Homo sapiens: one gene and its partners. The protein of the gene in region 3 interacts with the protein of the main gene of each other region in a pairwise test. Each region holds a gene or a part of one and is shown on either strand. Other genes may lie near its edges. The genes, in order: MCM10, RAD18, ORC2 and CTNNA3.

What was found.
Region 1: the proteins of ORC2 (region 3) and MCM10 interact in binary tests that used the Homo sapiens proteins (3 or more experiments, as listed by UniProt).
Region 2: the proteins of ORC2 (region 3) and RAD18 interact in binary tests that used the Homo sapiens proteins (3 or more experiments, as listed by UniProt).
Region 4: the proteins of ORC2 (region 3) and CTNNA3 interact in binary tests that used the Homo sapiens proteins (3 or more experiments, as listed by UniProt).

What each region holds. Positions count from the first base shown.
Region 1 is NC_000010.11:13,157,296-13,164,600, reverse strand, and holds the start of MCM10 (protein MCM10 homolog), read right to left. Parts: upstream 3,044-7,305; 5' UTR 2,995-3,043; exon of another isoform or gene 2,376-2,994; intron 474-2,375; 5' UTR 399-473; coding exon 392-398; intron 1-391. UniProt on the Homo sapiens protein: Acts as a replication initiation factor that brings together the MCM2-7 helicase and the DNA polymerase alpha/primase complex in order to initiate DNA replication. Additionally, plays a role in preventing DNA damage during replication.
Region 2 is NC_000003.12:8,953,462-8,960,508, forward strand, and holds part of RAD18 (E3 ubiquitin-protein ligase RAD18), read right to left. Parts: intron 5,541-7,047; coding exon 5,459-5,540; intron 1-5,458. UniProt on the Homo sapiens protein: E3 ubiquitin-protein ligase involved in postreplication repair of UV-damaged DNA. Postreplication repair functions in gap-filling of a daughter strand on replication of damaged DNA.
Region 3 is NC_000002.12:200,908,477-200,911,660, reverse strand, and holds the end of ORC2 (origin recognition complex subunit 2), read left to right. Parts: intron 1-273; coding exon 274-360; 3' UTR 361-2,684; downstream 2,685-3,184. UniProt on the Homo sapiens protein: Component of the origin recognition complex (ORC) that binds origins of replication. DNA-binding is ATP-dependent. The specific DNA sequences that define origins of replication have not been identified yet.
Region 4 is NC_000010.11:67,693,149-67,701,096, forward strand, and holds the start of CTNNA3 (catenin alpha-3), read right to left. Parts: upstream 3,048-7,948; 5' UTR 2,852-3,047; intron 1-2,851. UniProt on the Homo sapiens protein: May be involved in formation of stretch-resistant cell-cell adhesion complexes.

The DNA of each region.
Region 1 (7,305 bases), on a different chromosome or scaffold from region 3:
GTCAGACTGCCTGGTTCAAAGCCCTGCTATGCCAGCTTGAACTGTGACAAGTTACTAAACATCCCTGTTTTTCTGCCTATAAAATACGTTTGCCTGAGGACTGAATCAGTTAATTTCCACAAGGATCTTGGAGCAGTGCCTGGCCCACTGTACACCTACCAGCTATTGTAATTATGAAAGACAATCTCTGTTGCCAGAAGAAATCTCCCCTGATAAAAGCAAGTAACATTCAGTGACCTCTGTGAGATGTGAGATTGCTTCAGAACCACTAAGACAATACCTGAGGGCTGGGGAGCATTTTCACCATTTTACAGGTAGAATAAATAACAAGTCCATGGACAAAAGGTTAGTTTTCCTTGAAACAGAGTAACAGAAAACTGCCAGGTCTTACCATCCATGCTGTCAAGAGGACAGTTGTGACAGGAAACTTCGAAGGAGGCTCAGATGCCCAGATGAGCAATGTAGAATCTTGGCTGTGTGAAAGCAATATTAGAAATGTCACTTTCAATTCTTCTCTTTCTCTCACAACACACATCCAACAAACCCAGAATCCTACCACTCCTATGGGCTCTAACCTCAGAATTCATCCAGAATCTGACCATTTCTCACCTCCTCTCTCCACACCGCCAATGCCATCTCCTTCCTTGGATGTAGCAGCTCACTTTTACTTGTGTTTAAGGTTACAGAAAGTTATTGAGCTGCAGAGCAGTTTGTAAATCACACTAGATTACGTGGATGAGATAAATTATGAGGAAGAACTATTGGGGTTGGCTAGGTACAGTGGCTCAACGCCTGTAATACCAGCACTTTGGGAAGCTAAGGTGGGCGCATCACTTGAGGCCAGAAGTTTGAGACCAGCCTGGTCACATAGCAAGACCTTGTCTTTTTTAAAAATTACACACACACACACACAAATTATTGGGGTCGATCTACATTAGGCTATTCTTTCATTTTATTCACTGTAATACACCTGACATCTGCGTTATCCACGACAGCTTACTGTATGATTCTACTTAGGTGGAGCCTTAGTGACAATCAGGATTTTGATTCAATACTAGTCAGCAAAGCACAGAGAAACAGCGTAGCTAATTAAGACAAAGTTGTATCACTTTGTGCACTTCTCTTTTCATTTAAGGTTATTTTTTAAACTGCAAGTAAGAAAGTATACATTTTTCTAGGCTCTTATTTAACTTACATGTGCTCTTTGGCAAGTTCAATGTCAAGGAACTAATTACAGTGATTATGGTACTTTCTTTTCTTTTTTTAGACAGGATCTCGCTCTGTCGCTGGGGCTGGAGTGCAGTGGTGCTATTGGCTCACTACAACCTCCGCCTCCCAGGCTCCAGTGATTCTCCTGCCCCAGCCTCCCAAGTAGCTGGGATTACAAACGTGCACTACCACACCCGGCTAATTTTTGTGTTTTTTGTAGAGACAGGGTTTCGCCATGTTGCCCAGGCTGGTCTTGAACTCCTGATGTCAAGTGATCCATCAGCCTTGGACTCCCAAAGGTGCTTTTTTTTTTTTTTGAGACGGAGTCTCTGTCACCCAGGCTGGAGTGCAATGGGGCGATCTTGGCTCACTGCAAGCTCCGCCTCCCGGGTTCACGCCATTCTCCTGCCTCAGCCTCCCGAGTAGCTGGGACTACAGGCGCCCGCCACCACGCCCGGCTAATTTTTTGTATTTTTAGTAGAGATGGGGTTTCACCGTATTAGCCAGGATGGTCTCGATCTCCTGACCTGGTGATCCGTCCGCCTTGGCCTCCCAAAGCGCTGGGATTACAGGCGTGAGCCACCGCGCCTGGCCGCTTTTTAAAAATTCATTCAACCAACATTTCCACGGATCCCTCATGTGCCACACACTGTGCTATCTACTGGGGAACCTATTGGACAGTAAGCTTCCTGAGCGTTAGGAGCAAACTGTCTCGTTCAAGTCTGTAACCGGCCTTGCCTTCCCCCAAAATGAAACTGTGCACCCTCCCTCGCCCTCAAATCCACGGCCACTGACAAGTACTGTGGTCCCATCTCCAAAACACTGCTCAAATCTGCCACTTCTCTCCAACTTCACTGCCAGAACCCTAGGCCAAGCCACCGTCAACCTTTAACCCAATGACTGTGTTAGCTTTCTATGTTGGTCTCTTTGTCCCCGTGCAATCTGTTCTGCATACGACAGCCACGGTAATCTTCCCTTTCCTTAGTAACCTTTAGGAACATAAATCAGATCATGGGGGTCCCTTCATTGAAATTCTTTAATGATTTTCCATTGCCCTTAGAAAAAATCTACAAAGCCTGCGAGGCAATGATTCATATTCTCTCTCTCTTTCCAAGCTTTCTACTCCCTCACATTTTCCACAATCCACCACGTCCAATTCTACCCACCCCGACACCCATAACGATGCTCCAGCCGGGCCAGCCCGCTTCCACCTTCTGGAACACACTAAGCTGCTTTGAGGTCTCAGGCTCTGTCGAAGAAAGCTCCCCCCAGGTCCTTCTCGCCCTTCGGTCTCCACTTACTCATCTTTCTGAGACTTTCTGGACCACCCTGAGTCGTCCACTGTCGTGCATTTGTTTACTACCTGCTCGTGCCTTTAAACTGTAAGCGCTGTGAAGGCAGCGGAAATGTGATCCGAGCCATGCACACCGTCCGCATTCAATAATCATTGGCAAATCATGAATACGAGAAACCAATGAATGAATGAATGAATGAATGAATAAAAGAAAGCCCAGGCGGCAGGCACTTGGCAAGCACTTAAAAGGCTGCGTTTAAAAGGAAGAACCCGATTCCTTAGTAGACGGCCAGCAACTCCCAGCCCCCGGCCCGGCCATGCCAGCTCCGAGCGGTCCCAAGCTGCCGCCAAATCCAGATCGCGCCCACCCGAGCTCCCGGGACCCCGCGCCTCTAGCCTCGGACCCCTTGCAACCCGCGCAGAGACGTGCGAGGCGGCCCCGGCCCCGCCGCCCGAGGGTCACACGCACGCCCGGGGCCCGCGCTCCTCACCCGATGCCGGGACGCCTTCTTCGTTCACAGCTGAACCCGCCAAAATTCCAACCGGATCCCGCCCCTGCCTTGACGTCAGACGCACGCGGCTGTGGGGCAGCACTGACTGGCTACGCCAGCGAATCCCGGCCCTGGCACAGAGCAATCGGATTGGTTTACGTCATTGGACGCCCTCTTTGTTGGGGGCAAGGGACCTTCCTGTCGGTAGAAGCCAGTCTCCTTTAGGTAAAATAGAGTGTCTGGCGCCCCCTGGTGCCGGGAAGTTTAAGTCATCCCACCCAGTATTTTCCCTGCGGTCCCATCCCACCTCAACTCCTGACGCTCTGGGACCGACTGTTCCTTTGTCAGCCTTATGTCCATTCGAAATGTTTGGGCTCAGGACCAAACAGATCCGGTCCACTTTTACCCTGTCTGACCTTGGGGAAGTGACTTATCTCTCTGAGTTTCCCCTTCACCATCTGTGCAGTGAGGGAAAGGGTAGATGACATCTTTTACACTGAAACCACCATTTCCCGAGTAATTCCTGTTCCATAGATTTTGGGACTTCTAAGGGGCGTCAGGGCTGAAGAGAACTTATCAGCAGACCATATCTTTCACAGATTTTTTTTTCAGTAAAATTCAGGCCTCTTTATGTATTTACATTCTAAAAAATAGTGTTTGTACATAATACTAAGAACATAGTTTCTAAATGCAGAATAACATTTAGCTTTTACATAATTTCAAGGGATTGATAGCAGAAGAGACTTTGATGGACCAAATGGCCACTTTAAGTCTTTCCCCCCTTTTCCTCCTTGCAGACACTGTTCAGGCACTGCAGTTCCCCCACTAATAATCCCTTTGGTATAAGATCCTATCTCTATCCACTACGTACTTTCATTTTCAGAACAATTAAAATCGACTTTAGGAAGACTGAAGATAAACAGTCCTGATGCCATCTACGTTGACTTTTTTCTGTGTCCTAATGGAATATTACTGCTCCATTTATGAGCTCAGCCCTATTACTTAAACCTATATTGGCTCAGGAATAGGAATACAACCATTTCTGAGAGCTGCTAGTGTTAAAAATTCATAGTAATGGAGGAACTCTAGTAATCAAATTGAAAAAGTATGTTTAAATGCGTACTTTTAAACATACGGCACTAAGGCCGGGCACGGTGGCTCACCCCTGTAATCCCAGCACTTTGGGAGGCCGAGGTGGGTGGATCACGAGGTTAGGAGTTCGAGACCAGCCTGGCCAACATGGTGAAACCCCATCTCTACTAAAAACACACACAACACAAAAATTAGCTGGGCGTAGTGGTGCGCGTCTGTAATCCCAGCTACTTGGGAGGCTGAGGCGGAGAATCGCTTGAACCTGGGAGGTGGCGATTGCAGTGATGAGCCGAGATCTCGCCACTGCACTCCAGCCTGGCGACAGAGCCAGACTCTGTCTAAATAAATAAATAAATAAATAAATAAATAAATAAATAAATGCATCACTACATCTAGTTATTAAAAAAAAAAGATTCGTCATAGATTTATTCTTAGCCATTATGCAGAAATTCCTTGACTAATTCTGATCAGTACTCTGAAGTTCTTTTCTTCACCTTCACTTTCCAGGTCCTCTTTGCATCCAGTTCCGGGCAAGGAGTCAGAAACAGAACCAACCTAAGCCCGCAAACCTTCCTTAAGTGAAGAATCAAGCACTTTTTATTGGAATTAGTATAGTGGTGACTTTGAGAAAAGAAGTGGAGGTGATTTTGAGAAACAATTAGGCAAATAGATTTTTTAAAATCCATTGAATGTGGCTTTTCCGTGCCGATAGCGCTCACACAAACATTACGAAGTTTCCTAAAACCCGCCAGACTTTCTATAAGAAGTGTGGCAAGCACCAACCCCACAAAGTGACACTGTACACGAAGGAGAAGGATTCTCTGTATGCCCAGGGAAAGCGGCGTTATGACAGGAAGCAGAGTGGCTATCGTGGGCAAATTAAGCCGATTTTCCAGGAAAGGGCTAAAACTACAGAAAATTGTGCCAAGGCTTGAGTGCGTTGAGCCCAGCTGCAGCTCTAAGAGAGTGCTGGCTATTAAAATATGCTAGCATTTTGAACTGGGAGGAGGTAAGAAGAGAAACGGCCAAGTGATCCAGTTCTAAGTGTCATGTTTTCTTTTATTATGAAGACAATAAAATCTTGAGTTTATATTTTTAAAACATCCATTGAATGTGGAGATATTAGCGAGAAGGAAGCAGAGAGGGGATGGGGAGACAGGTTTAGGATGACTGTTAGGTTTCTGATTTATACAATAGGGTCGTTTTTGAGGTTGTGCACTGAAGTAGGAGACATAGGAAGAACGGAACAGGTTTAGGGGAGAAGATAGATTTAGTTTTCTATTTCAGAATGAGATGTATGAGAGATGCTGATTAAGAAAGGCACGGTAGCCAGCTTGATCTCCAGATCTGGGGTTCTAAGGAGAGGCCTGGACTCTCCTTAGAATACAAACGAAGGCCAAAAAAGAACAGCTCTGACAGTTATCAACATCTATCTAAAATGAAATCTAAAGCAAACAGCCCATATTGCAGTGGTCCTTAACCTTTTTTGGGCGGTAGGAGGATGTTTATCACAGACCCCTTTAATGTATTAAAAGTGGGCCGGGCACGGTGGCTCATGTCTGTAATCCCAGGACTTTGGGAGGCCGAAGCTGGCAGATCACCTGAGGTCAGGAGTTCGAGACCAGTCTGGCCAACATGGTGAAACCTCATCTCTACTAAAAAAAATGCAAAAATGAACCGGAAGTATTGGCGCATGCTTGTAATCCCAGCTACGCGGGAGGCTGAGGCAGTAGAATCGCTTGAACCCGGAAGACGGAGGTTGCAGTGGGCCGAGATCGGCCACTGCACTCCAGCCTAGGCAACAAGAGCAAAACTCCGCCTCAAAAAAACAAAAAACAAAAAAAAACACAAAAAGTCCAAGCCGAGCCCTTCCTGCTCCCTCTAGGAATCAAAATGGCGGCGAGGGAAAACTGGAGCAGTCCCGGAGCCTGAGCCACTGACAGGAGAGGAGAGGGCGGCGGCGGCGGTGGGAGGAGGATGGCGGCGGTGTGCTGGCGCCGGTGCCTGCCGCGGTGCTGGTGGCGGAGGCGGCGGGGGCGACGGCCGAGGTCCCTGCGGCAGCAGCAGCAGCGGCGGCGGGAGGAGCCTCCAGGTCGATTGAACTGTGGATGAGGAACCTACGGAATACGAAGGGCAGACTGTATAGTAAACACTTGAGGATGCTTGCTGTGTGGTTCTTACAGAATGCACTGTCCGTGTGTCTGGCTGCCCACAGCCTTTCATACTTCAATAGTATGCACTAAAGTAAGGTCTAATGGCCCTGTTCTCATAGAAATAGATGGAAAGAGGCTGCTGGATCCAGGGTTGAAGGTTCCTAATGGCCTCTAGGATTATACTCTGAAGAACCCGCAGACGGAATGCCTGAATGACTGAAGAAAATGGGTGCTAATGCATCTCATTATCCTCATCCATGTTCCGCGAAGGTAGGGGGAAATTCACAGGCCCAACAGACTTTTATAGGGACGTCATCCTATTCTCAGCAAGGCTATGGTTGTGAATCAAAATTGTATAGCCTTGACCATGGCCATGAGAAACCACAAGACAAAAAAAAGAGGCCGGGCACGGTGGCTCACGCCTGTAATCCCAGCACTTTGGGAGGCCGAGACGGGCGGATCACGACGTCAGGAGATCGAGACCATCCTGGCTAATATGGTGAAACCCTGTCTCTACTAAAAAATACAAAAAATTAGCCGGGCGTGGTGGCGGGCGCCTGTAGTCCCAGCTACTCGGGAGGCTGAGGCAGGAGAATGGCGGGAACCTGGGAGGCAGAGCTTGCAGTGAGCCGAGATCGAGCCACTGCACTCCAGCCTGGGCGACAAAGCCAGACTGTCTCAAAAAAAAAAAAAAAAAAAAAAAAAAAAAAAGACCTCTGGCCCTGCTACCTTCAAAAAGAACTTAATTAAGCCTCGAAAATCTGATAGGTCTGCCGATCATGCCAAGCAGATGCGAGAACTCCTCTCTGGGTGGGATATTAGAGATGTCAATGCATTAGCGGAGGAATATGAGGGAAGGTCAGCATTAAAGAAGCTTTCCCTACAAGCCAGTTTGGCTAGACCGGAAGCCCGGACATTGCAGAAAGATATGGCTGATCTTTATGAGTACAAGTATCGTACTGATACAGATTTCATATTTCAAGAAACTTGTTATCCTGTTCATCGTGCCATTTTGGCAGCAAGGTGTCCATTTTTTAAATGCTTTCTTCCTCACCTGAGTATGGGG
Region 2 (7,047 bases), on a different chromosome or scaffold from region 3:
CTACCAAATATGTACTGGTAAGCTGCAGACCAGCATAATTTATTCTCTAGTGGGCAACTATGACAACCCTTCCATTCAAAGAAGAACAGCTGAAGAGTTTTGAATTCATGTATTCCCAGAGGGCTTCATTTAAATCACCTATGAAATTTGTCTTTCCATCCAAGAGAGCCCAAAAAAGATGTGTGGGCAGAGTGGAGGAAGGTACAATAACAACAATGAATTAAAGAGTAGTTTCACAGAAATATCCAAGCCTTGGGAGAGGGGGCATCTCTAATCCCAAGCAAGATCCTAGATAAAATAATTGGCTTGTGGACACTGATAAATTACCACTATTTTAAAGCTTGGCCAGCAATCTTTTTTTTTTTTCCTTTTGTGGATTTTGACTCAAAAAAAATTAATCAAAGCTTGTGTAGAAGTAAAAAGCAATTTTATTTCATTTTTTAAAACAAACTGAAATATGAAATGTTCCCCTTACGAAACCTTTGCTAATTCAAGAGACAACATAAGATTCTATTAGGCAAATAATAAACGTGTTTATCTTCTTTTATATTCTCATGAAGTAGCACTGTGAAACAAGGCAGAGGAGAAGAGAAATAGCTACACACACAAAAGGGAGATATAATTATGCAGAGCTGCACTTCTGGAAATTCTGAAATGCTAGTCTTTAGTTGGAGGGATGTTATTCTCTTACCAACTAACTGTCCCTTAACATTAGAACTGGAGGCAGATGCCAACCTTTTCAGCTTTCTTGGACCTCCTGTTCTTTTCACACTGGTTTTTGCTTTTAACTGGACACTTTAGATGTTTCTTTCTAAAAAGTTCCTTCTTTCATAAAGTCCTTAAGATTTCACATGACAAGGATTCATTTAAGTTTTAGAAATTTCCTTTTTACTATTAAGATGCTAGACTCTTTTGATGTTTGAAAGCCAGCCAATTGCTAAATATTTTGATCATCTTCCATTATGAAGTGAGAAAAATTATAGCAAGTGCAAAGAAAATTGGCACTTGGGCATATTAGTCTATTAGCAAGACCATTTCTCACTTAATGGTGTTTTATGGGTTGGAGTAAGTCTGCTCCCTCTCGCCCCCAAAATACTCTTTAATAGCACAAATTTGGATCAATTTAATTGACCTGCATTCTGCCAAGGCACCCCACTCACACCTTTGTACCTGCAGAACTACAAATGTAGTGTTTATTACTCATATCCAAAAACCTAAACAGAACAAAACAAAATAAAGTGATTTAAAAATGATAAATCATGAAAAATCTAAGAAGCAACAATAAATACCTAGGATTCTGGATCACCAATTCTAGTCAATCCAAGATGATACCAGAACATGACAGACCTGGCTTCCACTACAGCCCTGGGGGTTTTGTGTCATTAAAACACTAAAGACCCAGAGCAAATTTTAGACATGACGGGACTTGTGACAACTGGTGTTTAGTAGAAGAGGCCTACTGAATACTGAGACTTCACAAGTGAAAAAAAAGTGCTCATAAAATAAAAAATCATCATTACTGAAACTTCCCTCCACTGACTTCCTCTTAAAGAATGGCATAAGTGACAGCTATAAGTCATGAAGAAGTGAGCAAACAACATGTATCCCTAGGGAGAGAAACAGAAGACTAGCACTTACATTGCGGGGGCTACTTGAGAAACTGGTTTCTGAGCTGCCTGAATCTATACACTGACAGAAAAGGGAACCAGGTTGAGGGCCACTGAGAACAAAAGCAAAGGTCTGGACTAGTACCACACTCACTGGCCAGTGTGCCTCCCCCAGGCTCAGCAAGGAAGAGAAACCCCCAACTTTCTGCCTGGGGAGAGAAAGAAGGGAAACACGGTCCAATGTTCTAGCTTTTCCAAGAGCTGGCCAGAGGACTGGCTTCTGTCTCACCCCACTAAGCATGAACCCTGCATGTTCTAGGTGACTGGGGACTGCTAAGAATAAAAAAAAGCTGGGTTGCTTGCTACTGATCCACAGGACCCATAGAGCAGACAGAGGCTGATATAGCTCTGCGGCTTATCTTGGGAGGGGAGGCTGGGAGAGAATAGTGGAGTGTGTGACCAACATTTGAACTTTTCAAAGGACTGCCTAAGGGAATGGTTTCTGTCTCACTCAACTTGGGGTGCTTTGGATCAGCATACTTTAGATGCTTGAGGGCAGCTGAAAACAAAAAAAGAGGCTGATGGCTTACAGCAACTCTGGAGAACCTGCAATACCATGGACAGACACATGAGAGAGAAAAACAGCAGCTAATGAAAAAACTGACCAAATCTCTCGGCTTGGAAATTTATAATCACAAGTCCAGGGAAGACACATCCACAGAAAAGGCTTACGAAGCCCCTAGAATCTGCAGTCAAGCTGACTAGTAAAGATCTTTCTCTATATGGTAGTGCCCCCTTATACACAGGCGAGACATTCCATAAAGCGCAGTGGATGCCTAAAACCACAGGTAGTACTGAATCCTATTTATACTATGTTTTTTCCTATACATACTTACCTATGATAAAGTTTAATTTATTAATAAGACACAGTAAGAGATTAGGAACAATAACAATAACATAGAATTAAAACAATATACTATAACAAAAGTTATGTAAATGTGGTCTTTCTCTCAAAATATCTTGTGCTGTACTGTAGATGGTACTGTAGATCTTAGCAACCTCAGCATACAATTTTCTTTCCTTTCCTTGTTAAGAACTTTCACCTTTTCACTTAAAGGAAGCATTTTATGGTTTCTCTTTGTCATATCCGAATTGCCAGCATCATTACTCTTGTGCTTTGGGGCTACTATTAAGTAAAATAAGCGCTACTTGACACAATTACTGTGTTCTGCAACACAGTGACAATTACTGCCATGCTGCAACAGTCAATCTGGTAACCAGGATGGTCACTAAACGATTAACGGTAGATAGCATATGTAACATCAACACACTTGACAAAGGGATGATTCCCATCCTGGGCAGGACGGCACAAGATTTCATCAGTGCTTTACTTAGAACAGAGTGCAATTTAAAACTTATGAATTATTTATTTCCAGAATTTCCCATTTAGTATTTTCAGAATGCAGTTGACCACAGGTAACTGAAATCACAGATAAGGGGGGACTACAGTACAAAGCCAGTCTGTAACAAAGCCACTGTGAGGGAGTGAGGCCCTGTCTCCCAAACAAAACAAAACAAAAACAACGTTATTAGCTATGTCACAAAATAAAGGAAGAAAATCATATGAGCATCTCCATAACTGCAGAAAATACTTGACAAAATTCAACACCCATTCATGATTTAAAAAAAAAAATCCTCTCGCCTAACCAGGGGTAGAGAAGTGCCTCAACTTGGTAGGTTTATGAAAACATATTAAGAATATAAAAAAAACTTACAGCTAACATCATACTTAATGGTAAAAGACTGAATGCTTTCCCCAAAAAATTAAGAGTAAGGACAGGATGTCCCTCCACACCACTTTCAACACTGTAGTTGAGGTACCAGCCTGTGTAACAAAAAGAAACATAAAGGCATATAGATCAGAAAGGAATGAGTAAAACTGTCTTTATCCACAAATGACATGATTGTGTATGCAAAAATTTCTAAGGAATCAACAAAAAAGATGCTGGAATTAAAGTGAATTTACTGCAGTCAGAAGACGAAAGGTCAATATAAGTTATATTTCTTTGTGCAAGGTCTGTGCAATGAAAATCAAACAACACTGTTGAGAGAAATAAAGATAGAGAAGTGTATCATATTCATACACTGAAGACTCGGCATTGTTAAGATGTCAATTCTCCCAAATTGATCTCTAGATTCAATACAATTCCAGTGAACATCCCAGCAGGCTTTTGGTAGAAATTGACAACCTGATTTTAAGTTATACATGGAAATGCATTTAAAATGCAACGATCCTAAAAAAAACGAAGAAAAAAAAGTTGGAGGACTTACAATGCCTGACTTCAAGACTTACTACAAAGCCACAGTAATCAAGATAGTGTGGTACTGGCACAAGGATAGACATATATGAGTCTAGCATATAAGCATTTTAAAATATTGTACCTTGAGGTATTTACTGCAATAGGGGTTATCCTATCATTGTTCAGGAGTTAGACAAACAGTTTACAGATTATTTAGGTTCATGCTCTTTCCTGTTCTCTATTTTCAAGTTGATTTATCTTGGAAAGCTAAAGCAACAGTAAACTTAGGCCTAAACAATTGGTTTTAGTGGGCAGTAGTTTTGGTGAAAAACTACTAAGTTTCTAAGATCAATGGAATAGAAGAGTCCAGAAATAGACTACAGATGGCTAGCTGAGGTCATACTGACTGAGATGGGGAGAAATTTATCAGATAATGAAAATGTTCAGTATCTTAATTGCAGTAGTAACACAGCATACACATTTGTCAAAATTCATGAACACTTTTATACCTTAATGTGCACTTAAAATGGATGTATTTTATTGTATGTAAATTACACCCAAATAAAGATGATGTTAAAATATATTTTAAAACAATCTCCAAAACTTATCTTGGTTTTTAATGTGAATCTTGTCTGGAAGAAAACTAACATTGTTAAGGACTCATAATGTGCCGGACAGTGAGTTCTGCACATTTAATTCTCACAAACATTTTCTAAAGTAGTAAATTCTCACCCGATTTTCAAGAGTCAAGCCCAAGGGCATCTGCAATGCCCGTGCTGCCGTCACTGCTACCCTCTTACTATGTCTTCTCCACAGAAACTTTTCCACCAAAGCTACTACCAACTAAAACCAATTTCTTAGGCCTAAGTTGACTGTTTTTAACTTTCCAAGATAAATCAACTTGAAAATAGAGGACAAGAAAGATCATGAACCTGAATAACCCATAAACTGTATGTCTAGCTCCTCAACAATGATAGGGTAACCCCTATGCACTAAATATCTTAAGGTACGATATTTTTAAATGCTTATATACTAGACTCTTAAAGAGAAGTACAAACAAATTCCAACATGAGTCTTTCCAGCGTCACATAGCAGTTAAGGTATAAAACTGTCTGTAATAAAGTCAGTGGTAGAATTCTCCCACTGGGGCAATATTCTTATTGTTACAGATTTTTAAACTTTGAAATTCTATATCAAGTACTACTTGGTGGAACCACCTATCTGTTATCCTGTTAAAAACAAAAATTCTGAAACTTAACGTCAAAAAACACTTGGCAAATAAAGAACCACTTATTGTGACCAAAAATTTTACTGCCATAAATGCTATAAGAATCATAAAAATATCAAAGAGGAACGAGGTAGAAAATATAGAAGCCTTGTAAAAACCTTCAATATTCAAGAGGAAGGCAGTGAAAAAGACCTTCTGAAAAACTACAAGATAGAAGAGCTAAAGGTGAAACATAAATATGTGCACATATCTTTGGTGTTAAATTAACACTACCTCATGTAAAAATCGCAATTTACTAACTCACAGGAACAAAACATACTTACAGTTATGTGAACACTGAGGTATTATCATTGCAATGTTGAAATACTCGAAGCAAATTCCACACCGCAGCAAATCATCTATTGTCTGAAATGCAAATATGCATATATACATATCAGAAAGACATCAAAATTGGAAGTCCTGTCACAAAACTTTTTCTCTATCCCCTAAAAAAAAAATCAAACTCTTTGTCAAATACACAAATTCAAAAGCTAACTCCAGATAAACTGCAAGGGATCTTGACAAATAAATAAAAACTTCTCTCATATGACTCTTATACATTCAGTCTCAGGTTGCCCAAATTGCTTTAGACAGCTAAAGATGATGGCACACCGATTCTTGTGCCATATTGTCATCCCTTCACATAAGGGCTACTGTACTTCTGTTCCACTTCTAATGCGCTTCCAGCTCTTACTCCAAGCCTCCTCCTCTTCAGACTCCAACACCTAGCCTATAGTCACTATTGGGTGAAAGGTGGCCATTGCCACCACACAAGTTAAGAATCAAATCAAAGAATGTTAAAGCCAAACTCCAGAAACTGTCTAGTCAAAAGAGGAAACTGGTATCAAAAGCAGGCACACAATAGTAGGCATCAGTCAAGCCAAGACCAAAATTCCTGTCTCCCGTCTGGCAGTCCAGTGCTTTCGGCATGGTACTACACATGCAGCCAAATGAGGAAGCCTGGAAAGAGCTGGGGCAGTGAAAGCAGAGGAAGGGAAAGTGGACAACTTGGAAAGAGAGATGTGTGCCAACCTGGAATGCAATCCAAACAGGAACGGAACTACTCTGGCAACCTAAAATCTTTCAAATTGTTTAAAATAAAATATTATTCCATTCAACAGAAATATTTTTTAAAAGGAGGAAGCTCTCGACGGGAGGATCGCTTGAGTCCAGGAGGCGTAGGTTGCAGTGAGCCCACATCGCACCACTATACTCCAGCCTGCATGACCGAGTGAAACTGTCTCAAAAAAAAAAAAAAAAAAGAGGAAGCTCTCCATCATACTGATATGAAAAGATTGCCAAGATAAGTGAAAAAAGGAAATAAGGTATAGACAGTACATATACTATGCTACGGTTTGTTTAAAAGGAAGAGGTGAGTAAGAATGTATTCTAATAGGCCTAGCATGGTGGCTCTGTAATCCTAGCACTTTGGGAGGCCAAGGCAGGAGAACTGCTTGAGTCCAGGAGTTTGAGACCAGCCTGGCAAAATAACAAAAATCCATGTCTATAAAAAATTTAAAAATTCGTTGGGAGTAGTGGCGCATGCCTGTAGTCCCAGCTACTCAGGAGGCTGAGGCGGAAGGATTGCTTTAGCCCAGGAGTTCAAGGCTGCAGTGAGCCGTGATTGCCACTGCATTCCAGTCTGGGCGACAGTGAGACCCTATCTCAAAAAAGAAAAAAAGGAAAAAAGAATGCATTCTATTTTCATTGTAAATGTAAATAATGAGAAGATAAACAAGAAGTCATAAATAATGATCAGGGCCAGGAACATGGTAAGAAGGAGACTTTTACTTTTTATTTTATGTGTATTTTGAACCATGTGAACCTATTACCTGAATTTTAAAAATGTAAACAAAAAAGGACTAATGTCGCT
Region 3 (3,184 bases):
GGCAGGAAGGTGAAGAATGATCTAAAGCACAATGAAAAAAATAAATACCCACCTACCCACCCTCTAGTTAGTTGTCTTTTCCACTATAAGGATGTTTAACTATAACTCCATATATTTAAGTATATATGACTGTGTGCCCTTTTGCCTTTTTATACTTATATATTTAAAAATTACATCCAAGAAATAAATTCATTTTTTCTTTAGCCTCTACAATAGAAGAGTTCATATACCTCTTATGAATGACTAACGTACAGGTATTCTTAAATCTTTCAGGGAACTGATGGAGTAGAGTATTTATTAATTCCTGTTGATAATGGAACATTGACTGATTTCTTGGAAAAGGAAGAAGAGGAGGCTTGAAGCTTTCCTTTATTCTTGAATCTCCCATGGAAGGGTTGTACCCCAGCTGCCACTCCTCTAGTTGAAAGTGTTGTGTTTACATCTGACATTAAATTATTTTTCCAGCATACAAGATTTAAATTTGGGAAGGGGGGGATGTCCTCAATTAGAACTTTTTGATCAGCCTGGCTGGTACCGTCTAGTACTATGCAGCGGTCCTCAAGTTGGAGAAAATGTGCCTTTCATTCATTACCTCTCTGGAGACTTCTTGCTGGAATGAACAGTGTGCTCAGGGACTATTTGGAACTGGATGTTTTTGAATTATTTTATACTTAGAGATATTCTGAATTTTTTGAGGGCCTTTTAACACTCCCCGAGCTGATTGTTTGCAAGTGTGTTTGTTCCAGAGTGTGGAAGTATAAAGACATGGGCATCACGTAAATTGGTTTTGTTTGCTATTCTGTGTGTCAGAACCAACGAGTGTAATGGAGAGGGCAGGTCATCTCTTATTGTTTCTAAAACAACTTAAAAGGTGTAGATTGGGAAGAGGTGAGTGATCCAGCTTTCTCCTTTTGGATTGAGGCTATGTACTTGGTGGGGGCAGGGGAGGGAATATATTATAATACTATTCAGTTGGGATAATGGGAAAAACAGAGTATATAGGGTATCTACCCAGCCTAGAAAGCACAGGAACAATACGTCATATATTTGGAACAGTTATTGTCTGTGCCATGACCTTCATGATACCAGTGAGAAGCCAGGCTAGAGAAATAAAATCCTGAATTACATTTTAGTAATTGTTTTCAAGACAACAAAAAATAAAACATTTCATTATTCTTGTATATTGACATATTTTTCTTTTCTTGAACAACATGCAGGTGAGTAGCATATTAATGGCTGGCTGTAAATTAATTTTGATTCCTCTGTCAAGTAGACCTAAAACTCACTGTAAGATATTTCAGTTTTTTCCTTAAAGTGATGATTTCAAACCTCCTGAATATTTGCGCGAGACTTTTTTCTTAGGAAAGAAAAAAGGCTCACCTTGGCTACTGTTGTCAGCTTACAGTCATCACATACCCCCTGAAATATTTGACACTTGGAAATGAAGTTCTTCCTGAAAATATCACTGCAATAAAATACGTACTACGTCAGCATTTCTCACTCATTTCTTATCTTGTAAACCTCTTTCATGAAAATATTTCCAAAAATCCTTGGAATTTTTAAATAATTTTTCTTGTGGCATATAATTAAGTAATTTTGGCCAGGCATAATGGCTTATGCCTGTAATCACAACACTTTGGGAGGCCAAGGCAGGAGGATCTCTGGAGCCCAGGAGTTTAAGAACAGCCTGGGCAACATAGTGAGACCTTGTCTCTACAAAAAATTTAAAAAATCATCCGGGCATGGTGGCCCATGCCTATAGTCCTAGCTGCTGTGGAGGCTGAGGCAGGAGGATCGCTTGAGCCCAGGGGTTCAAGATTACAGTGAGCTATGATTGTGCCACTGCACTTCAGTCTGGGTGCAGAGCAAGACCTTGTCTTTTTTTTTTTTTAAATCATTTTTTTAAAAAGTAATTTTATGTTAAGTCCATGGGCTTAGTCTTTTTTTTTTTTTTTTTTTTTTTAGATGGAATTGCACTGTCATCCAGTCTAGAGTGCAGTGGCGTGATCTAAGCTTACAGCAGCCTCCACCTCCTGGGTTCAAGTGATTCTTGTGCCTCAGCCTCCTGAGCTGGGACTACAGGCACACGCCACCACGCCTGGCTAGTTTTTGAATTTTTAGCAGAGATGGGGTTTCACCATGTTGGCCAGGCTGGTCTCGAATTCCTGACCTCAAGTGATCCTGCCTCGGCCTCCCAAAGTACTGGGATCAGGGGTGAGCCACTATGCCTGGCCAAGGGCTTAGTCTTAAATATAACCTCTAGTCAAAATGTTTAAACAAATTTGTACATAAATGTGATTTAAAAAAATTTTTTTAATAGTACCAAAGGATATTCAGTGAAAGTGAGTTTCCTGCCCACTCCCTGATCCACCCAGTTCTTTAGGCAACCACTGATAGCATTTTCTTAAGTATTCTTCCAGATATCGTCTATGCATATGTAAAAGTATCTGTCTTTCTCCTTTTAAAAACACAATTGGTAATATATCATACTTGCTGGTTTGCACCTTGCTTTTTTTGCTTAATATATCTAGTTTATAATGACCTAATGTGCAAATTTTTGCATCTGCCCTAAATATCTACTGGTTTATTTTTATAATTTTTGTGTCTATACTATTTGCAAGCAGTATGTGTCAGTAGACTTTATTATTAATAAATAAAAAGCCAATTTGGATAGAATCACTTTATAAATTGGTAGTGCTGGTTTTTTACTAAAAATATTTTTAAGTTCTTCAAAAGAAGTTTTATGAGTGCATCTTACAGATCTGGTGAAGATCTTGGCACATTATTGTATGCTGTTTGTTGACTTGTGTCCGCATCGGTGTCCCTGAGGCTCTAGCAATTATGTCTTGACTGATAAGGCTCTAATTTCTTCTACTGTGTTAACTTGCTTCTGGCAAGATTGAACAGATCTACTGAAACCTTGAAAGGTTTTCTGGGTACTCTTAATAAAATTGCAAAAAAAAAAAAAAAAAAAGGCACAGGAGATGTCAAACATTTATTGTTTATAAATTTGCCACAGTGCTGAATTTATTGTGCAAGGACTGCTAAATTAGTTCTCACAGTAGTCCAGAAACTGGACTTTCTTAGCATTGTTTGTTATTTTAATACATGATCACTTCACTCATATAAAAGATCAGTGGAGGCCGGGCGTGGTGGCTCACGCCTGTAATCCCAGCACTTTGGG
Region 4 (7,948 bases), on a different chromosome or scaffold from region 3:
CCCAGGCAAAAATAATGTGGTTAAAAACAGTATTTAAGCATGTGAAAAATCAGATGTATCGGCTAACAGTCCTGTTCACCTTCAAAAATTCTGCAGCCTCAATTATCTGTCACTTTCCATTAGATTTGCAACTTTGCTAAACTCCGGAGTTCCACCCCGCTGTACCATCTCACTTAAAATCCAGTATCCAAACAAGAATCAGAAAATCACACTTTTTAAATCTCTAGACTAGCATTCCCATGAGCCAATGATCCATAAATAAACACTATTTTCAAGTTTTCATTACAAAGCGCATAATTTCTCTTCAGGCCAGTTTGGGTTGCCAACTTCTCTTCTTAAATCTTAATCCCTTCTATTCCAAAAAAAATAGAAACATGCAAACAGAAGTTCATGGGGAATAGAGAATGAAACTCCCATCCTTCTGTAGCTATGGTTTTTCTCTAAATATTATTACTGAATAATAAAAACTTCACAATTTAAAAAGTTTTTTAATACAGGAAGAATATATTATTTGATAATTCATAACTCTACCTCTCACTTCACACCACATAATATTGATATCTCTAATCTCTCCACTTTGATTACTTGGGACCAGTAACCACTTCCAATAATTAGTTGTATTTATCACTAATTCCTTAGCTTTCTTCCTTCTACTCTATTTACACAACATGGTTCTCAAACTCAACAATGACAGAATTAAAACTTATCTTCTCTGACTCCTACCATAGCCACGCCTAATTCCATTCTCATGTTTTCCCTATAGAAAAACCCAATACTGAATTGCTCCTCTAGCATGTGCCCTCTATCCCTTTTCTTTCTAGTCTGTTGCCTACAGATTTTCTCCAAATACTTCTAATTTCTCCAAAGATTCACAATAAGTAAAGAATTTATTCTTCCTATTCCTATTTCTTTGTCACAGTTGTATCATAAAAGTCATATAAATCACTATGTCTACATGGTCTTCTAATAAAGTTACTTATACATTCTGTTATTTTCATGTGCAAAGTAACGTAAGTGATCAACAATACTATCTATCGGTTTCAGGCAGAGCTGAAGTATTTTCAACTCTGACATGTAGCTTTGTTGATATCTGTAAAAGTTTATTGAGTGGAAATTTTGTAGGTAGGAGAGATTCCATCCTTCTAAACACTAAGTATTTTGGTATCTATGTGCCTGATAACAATGTTTTGCACATCATAGACAATAAATATATCATTTGGTAGACTAGGAATTTTACAATGCTTTAAAAGAATAACAGTAAAAACACATCTTAAATATCACAACTTTTACCTTCAAACATAGTGTTCTCTAATCCAACACTTCTACAGTTAGAAACAGAGATTAAGGAAATTATCTTAAACATATCTACAACATACATATACACATAAGTAAATAAATACACAAAGATGTTTACCATAGCATCTAGATGTTCAGCAATGATTAATAAAATTATATTCATTCACTTGAACAAATGTTACACAAATTTAAAATAACACCACTGTAGAATAGGTAATATTCTGTGGAAAATGTTTTGGTATATGGTTAAATGAAAAAGCAAGGTTCCAAATTTTATCTATACTATTATTGCAATTATTTTTAAAGCCATCTAGAAAAAAAAAGACTAGAAGGAAACACATCAATGAAATTACAGGAAATATTTTTCTGTGCTTTCAAAATTCCTACGATGAACATTTAATGCTTTTATAATGAAAAAAAGTTTTACCAATCTTTACTCAAATAGGAAGATTTAGACTATGTGTAGGAGGTAACAAATGGGAATAACTTTGTCTATACTGTCTGTATTTTAGGTTTCTCCATTTAACAAACTTGTCCTATGGTTCTACTGAGATAATTTTTTATAATGGACAATGAAATTTTAATAGCACACTCAAATATGCCATTCAAATCTGACCATGGATAATCTGAATCTTCAAATCACAACTATTCTCAATATGTTGAGCTTTCAATCTGTCTAAAAAGCTAGCCACAAACCCAGAACCAATGCAAACTTGAAATCCTGCTTTTTCCACTTTGTTTTAAGCAAATCATTGCATTCTCACGTTATCTCCAGAGATCTTAGTAGGCACATATCAGTGACTCAAAACCTCTACAGTAAATGAACTTTCTGATGTCTAACCCCAATTTCTTCTTGTTTCCATTTGAACTCATTTCTTTTATTTGTCTTCCGTGTAACTGACAGCAGCTGCTCACAATCATTCAGATCCCATTAGATAGTGACCTTTTCTTTACATGATTGATCATTACATCTCATGATCATTCCATACAGTGATTTTCATTTGACTATAACTGGTCATCAAACAGTTCTGAGAGCATTCCTCAACCTCTTAATATTCCTTCCAATTATAAAACAAATAGACATTAAATTCAGAAATTAATGCTTTTTGCCATTATCTCACTTGAAACATCTTCCATTTACTATGAATTAGCTTTTGGTTGAAAGTAAAATCCCTTCAAACATATTCCATCTTTGCTTCCTTTTCCCCACTCCCATGCCAAAGCACAAGCATCCAGGCCATATCTTATCTTTTCCTGCACAGTATCCAATCGGCTTTTTATAGCCAGAAACTCTCTGAATGCAAAGCACGACCTTGGCTACCAGCTTCCCCTGGCAATAGTTCGAAAGTTATTTATAACTTTAAAATTAGCGTGAAAGCCTACGTTTCTCATAACTAGTCAAAACATTCCTATTTCATACAATAATGTGATCTTCCTCAGTTCAGAAGAAAACCCCAAATTTTAAACCTATGATTATAACTAAGACACAGGAATTCAATGCAGAAATGAGAATTCGCTGAAGTTCAGCTCTTCTCTTTACAAACTTGATTCTTACCTTTCTGTTTCTTCCTATAAAGTAAATGGGCTTAAAATTCAGCTCCCGTAGGGAATTTTCCAAAAAGAGCTTTGTGGGGGACGGAAAAAGGCTTCTTGGTGGTCACAGAGTTACAGAGTACCAAATTGAGAGGCAGATGACAGTGGGGCAGTCAATTTCGCTGAGCGTTGTTCACCCAGGATAAGAAAGAAAGGGGAGGTTACAAGCCAGGGTGGGTGGTATCTAATCCTGAACCGCTAGTCACTGACCTCACTGACAACTTGTTACTGAAAATACTTCGTTGAAAAAGGCCAGACACATACTTTGCCTAGAGACCTACAAACATAGCTCTGAATAAGTTTAGATTTGCATTTCTCTAGTTCCTTTCCAAAAGAAGAACCTCTTCTATCTAATTAAAGCCAAAGGCTGGAATTATTGAAAGTGAAAAATGATAAAGCAGGGAAAACAAGAGTCCAGGAAATCCTCACATCAAAAGATCAATTATGTAAAATTCAATGTCTTCAGAACCCTAGAGATGATGGCATCAAGGCCATGTGTCACATCTGAGATCGTATTTTTCTTCTTCTGAAATATTACCTGTCTCATCCCTTGTACCAAGCATCACACTCTCTCCTTCCAGTATTTATGAGGAACCACATCATTATCAGTAAAGAATCTAAACTGAAGATTTACCAAAAACTCAATAGGTTAACCCATTATTAAATTTAAGCCACCAAAAAAAAAAGTCTTCTCCACCAAAATTTATTTTTTCTCTCTATGACTATTCTTTTTCACATTTCCTTTTCCCTTTTTTTTGATATCTTCTCCCTCAATATCTTCACATCCACTGAAACAATCTTTATCATTTCATCAATTCCTTGACATCCCACTCGAACTTCTGTGGCATTTCCTTGGACATTACCATTTTTCCGACTTTCTTCTAATAGCTTCTAAAACAAGAGGTGCTAACTAAAATATGAACTACTTGTTTGAGTTTTGGCAGTCCTGTTCTTAAAAGGCTGAATTCAAAATAAAAAGAAAGCATTTATTTATTGGCTCTCCAGATACTCTTAGCACAAATTTCAGGGAGCCAAGAGGAAAGGCAGGGTCTGGGAACTGTCAGAGAATCAACTATGAAAGGAGTTCATTTTATATGATTTTCAGGATAGCCTTCAAAACAACTGTATTTTTATGTAGCTACCTTTAAAATGGGCATAATTGACAATATATTTATCTAAAGATTCTTAGTTGCTAACATGCTATCCTCCCCAGATTTTTTTAAAGCAGCTTTTTCCCCCTGGAGAATCTAGGAATAGCATCTTTTCACAGTGAAACAAAGAGTAAGTTTTATGTCTCTCAATCCATCTTTTCTTGAATAAAGAAATCACTTGACACTTGCAAAATAGCAGGTTTTGTTTTAGAGCTTTAATAATGAATGTTTTCCAAACCAGGACTGTTGAATTGAGCCCAAGATGAGATATCCAAATTCTATCATAAGCCTAGCTTGTCCTGCTGTGAAACCACAATAAGTTACTTACCTGCCCTGTACCTCTCCTTTCCACCTACAAAATGTAGATGAGAACTCTTATTCTTTTCATTTGCTTTTCAGAGGATATGTGAATTAAATGGATAAAAGCTGAAGAGCTTTAAATTACACTGAACTCTTCAGAGATGCAATACAGATAAAACCTTCTTACAGAATTTGGTGTTATCAAAACAATTAAATATTATAAATATCTGAAATGTAATTTTAAAGAGCTTTTATAGTGGGTTTTTTTTTAATTCCTTCATAAAAATATCTGCAGCCTCCAAGGTAGTATTTAGCTGAAGTATTTCCCACTATAGCCACAAGAGGTCCCCTCCTAGCAATTCAAATCACGTTGGATTTGTTGATCACAGGCCCCATGGTCCTCTGTATTTGTATCAGTTTGCTGACAGAAAACATATATCACCTATGTCAAATTTCCATAGCTAACTATAGGGTAGGAGACAAAAGCAGAGAAATCTGCCTTTCTCTGTGTGATCGCTGAGGCATGCTGGAGGCTAAATAGTTCCTGTAAACTACACAGCCCCTGCATTTTGCATCCTGGCCCTCTTCCAGATTTTCACAGTAGTTCTTTCTTGTCACCTTGCCCAGTCTTGTTCAGTATTTATTCTCCTTCCCTATTTACTTGTTTCCTTTCTTTATACTTTGCAAACTTTAAAATTTTGGCTCACATGCCTCTTGCAAGCAATCAAACATTGAGGGTAGAAGAGCTGGGGAAAAAAAAAAGAGAGAAAAAAGAGAGAGAATAAATCAGGGCCATTACTAGCAATTCTCCCGAGGTAATCAAAAGTAAGTTTTTTCGTTCTGGGCATCAGGACCGGCCCCAAACAAAGTCATTCAATTGGATGTATTGAGAAGCCCCTTGATGCAGAGCCCTGTGTTAGGCGCCAGCTAGAAGATTACAGGAGAGAAGGGAGGCCTCCAAAAAGAAGATAATTCTATCCCTGTCAGTAGCCTCTCTTGGAAAATAAATCCTCCAGGGTGCAATATGTTCTTTAGTCAGAATGGAGTAGTTTCTTCTTGTCAATAAAATCCCTTATAGAATGAAAATCACTTTTGCATGAACCATGAGTCCATTTCATCTGTCCATAATATCTCAAAATACTGGCAATTTCAGGTTCGGGCTTTAAAAATATGTAATTTTCTGAACAGCCATAATACCTTTCTAAAATGAGATTTAAAGCTAGGAATAATCCCTGTTTGTGATAATTAAAACCATTTTTTTCAAAAATATGTGATAAATACTTCTGGCACCTTGTCAGGTATTTTAGGTGAATCTAAATGAATCTGCCCCTGATTTGAAGGTCTTATGTACTATTAATACAAAAAAAAAAAATGTTTCTCACTCTCCCTTCCCAACCATCCTTATTATTAGCAGCTAACCAACTCTCCTGCCTCACTAAGAAGAACAGAAGCCATCTGGAAGATGTTTCACATCTTTCCATCATCAAATCTATAAACCCACTAACACCGAGCCTCATCTTCTCTACCCTCCCTCCTATTAAAATGCAAGAAGTCCTCTTGCTCTTACCAAAGGCTAATCTCTCTTGTGTGCTGGATCCCTTCTTCCCTCACCTTTTCAAGGACTCTGCTCCTTCACGATCACCTCACACACTGCATTATCACCCTTTCTCCAATGATCAGTGCAAAAATATGCCACAGGACTTCTACCTGAAAATTTTCAAACAAACAAAACATACTTTTACCCTACAACTCCCTGTGGTTGCTACTTAGTTCTCTGTGCCTTCATCATAATACTTCCCAAATGAGTTGTCCACCACCCCTATGTTTTTACCTCTCACTTCACAACCCACTAAGATGATTTATTTCCCCTTCACTCCCAAAAGGGTCATTTTTAAGTCTATCAACAACCTCCAGGTGGCCAAACCATTCTGTCACCTGAGGGGATAACACATCCTAACCTATGGCTTCAAATGAGATCTTTAAATGACATAGGATATTGAGTGGGACTTCTCCTGTTGCCAATAATTGGTGACTATGGCTCAAAATGAAAGACAATGAAGCCACCCAGGTACACGCTAAGGAATTTCCAGTATTTGAGGATAGACATTTCACTCAGGGATTACTAAGAAGCAGTTAAGAAAAGAGAAGGTGGAGCCAAGATGGCTGAATAGGAACAGCTCCGGTCTACAGCTCCCAGCATGAGCGACGCAGAAGACGGGTGATTTCTGCATTTCCATCTGAGGTACCAGGTTCATCTCACTAGGGAGTGCCAGACAGTGGGCGCAGGACAGTGGGTGCAGTGCACCGTTCGCGAGCCGAAGTCGGGCAAGCCACTGCCTCACTCGGAAAGAACAACGGGTCGGGGAGTTCCCTTTCCTAGTCAAAGAAAGGGGTGACAGACGGCACCTGGAAAATCGGGTCACTCCCACCCTAATACTGCGCTTTTCCGATGGGCTTAAAAGACAGCGCACCAGGAGATTATATCCCGCACATGCTTTGGAGGGTCCTATGCCCACAGAGTCTCACTGATTGCTAGCACAGCAGTCTGAGATCAAACTGCAAGGCAGCAGCGAGGCTGGGGGAGGGGCGCCCGCCATTGCCCAGGCTTGCTTAGGTAAACAAAGCAGCCAGGAAGCTCGAAATGGGTGGAGCCCACCACAGCTCAAGGAGGCCTGCCTGCCTCTGTAGGCTCCACCTCTGGGGGCAGGGCACAGACAAACAAAAAGACAGCAGTAACCTCTGCAGACTTAAGTGTACCTGTCTGACAGCTTTGAAGAGAGCAGTGGTTCTCCCAGCACGCAGCTGCAGATCTGAGAATGGGCAGACTGCCTCCTCAAGTGGGTCCCTGACCCCTTGACCCCCGAGCAGCCTAACTGGGAGGCACCCCCCAGTAGGGGCAGACTGACACCTCACACGGCCAGGTACTCCTCTGAGACAAAACTTGCAGAGGAACGATCAGACAGCAGCATTCACGGTTCACGAAAATCCGCTGTTTTGCAATCTCCGCTGCTGATATCCAGCAAACAGGGTCTGGAGTGGACCTCTAGCAAACTCCAACAGACCTGCAGCTGAGGGTCCTGAATGTTAGAAGGAAAACTAACAAACAGAAAGGACATCCACACCAAAAACCCATCTGTACATCACCATCATCAAACACCAAAAGTAGATAAAACCACAAAGATGGGGAAAAAACAGAGCAGAAAAACTGGAAACTCTAAAAAGCAGAGCGCCTCTCCTCCTCCAAAGGAACGCAGCTCCTCACCAGCAACGGAACAAAGCTGGACGGAGAATGACTTTGACGAGTTGAGAGAAGAAGGCTTCAGACGATCAAACTACTGCGAACTACAGGAGGAAATTCAAACCAAAGGCAAAGAAGTTGAAAACTTTGAAAAAAATTTAGACGAATATATAACTAGAATAACCAATACAGAGAAGTGCTTAAAGGAGCTGATGGAGCTGAAAGCCAAGGCTCGAGAACTACGTGAAGAACGCAGAAGCCTCAGGAGCCAATGCGATCAACTGGAAGAAAGTGTATCAGTGATGGAAGATGAAATGAATGAAATGAAGGGAGAAGGGAAGTTTAGAGAAGAAAGCATAAAAAGAAACGA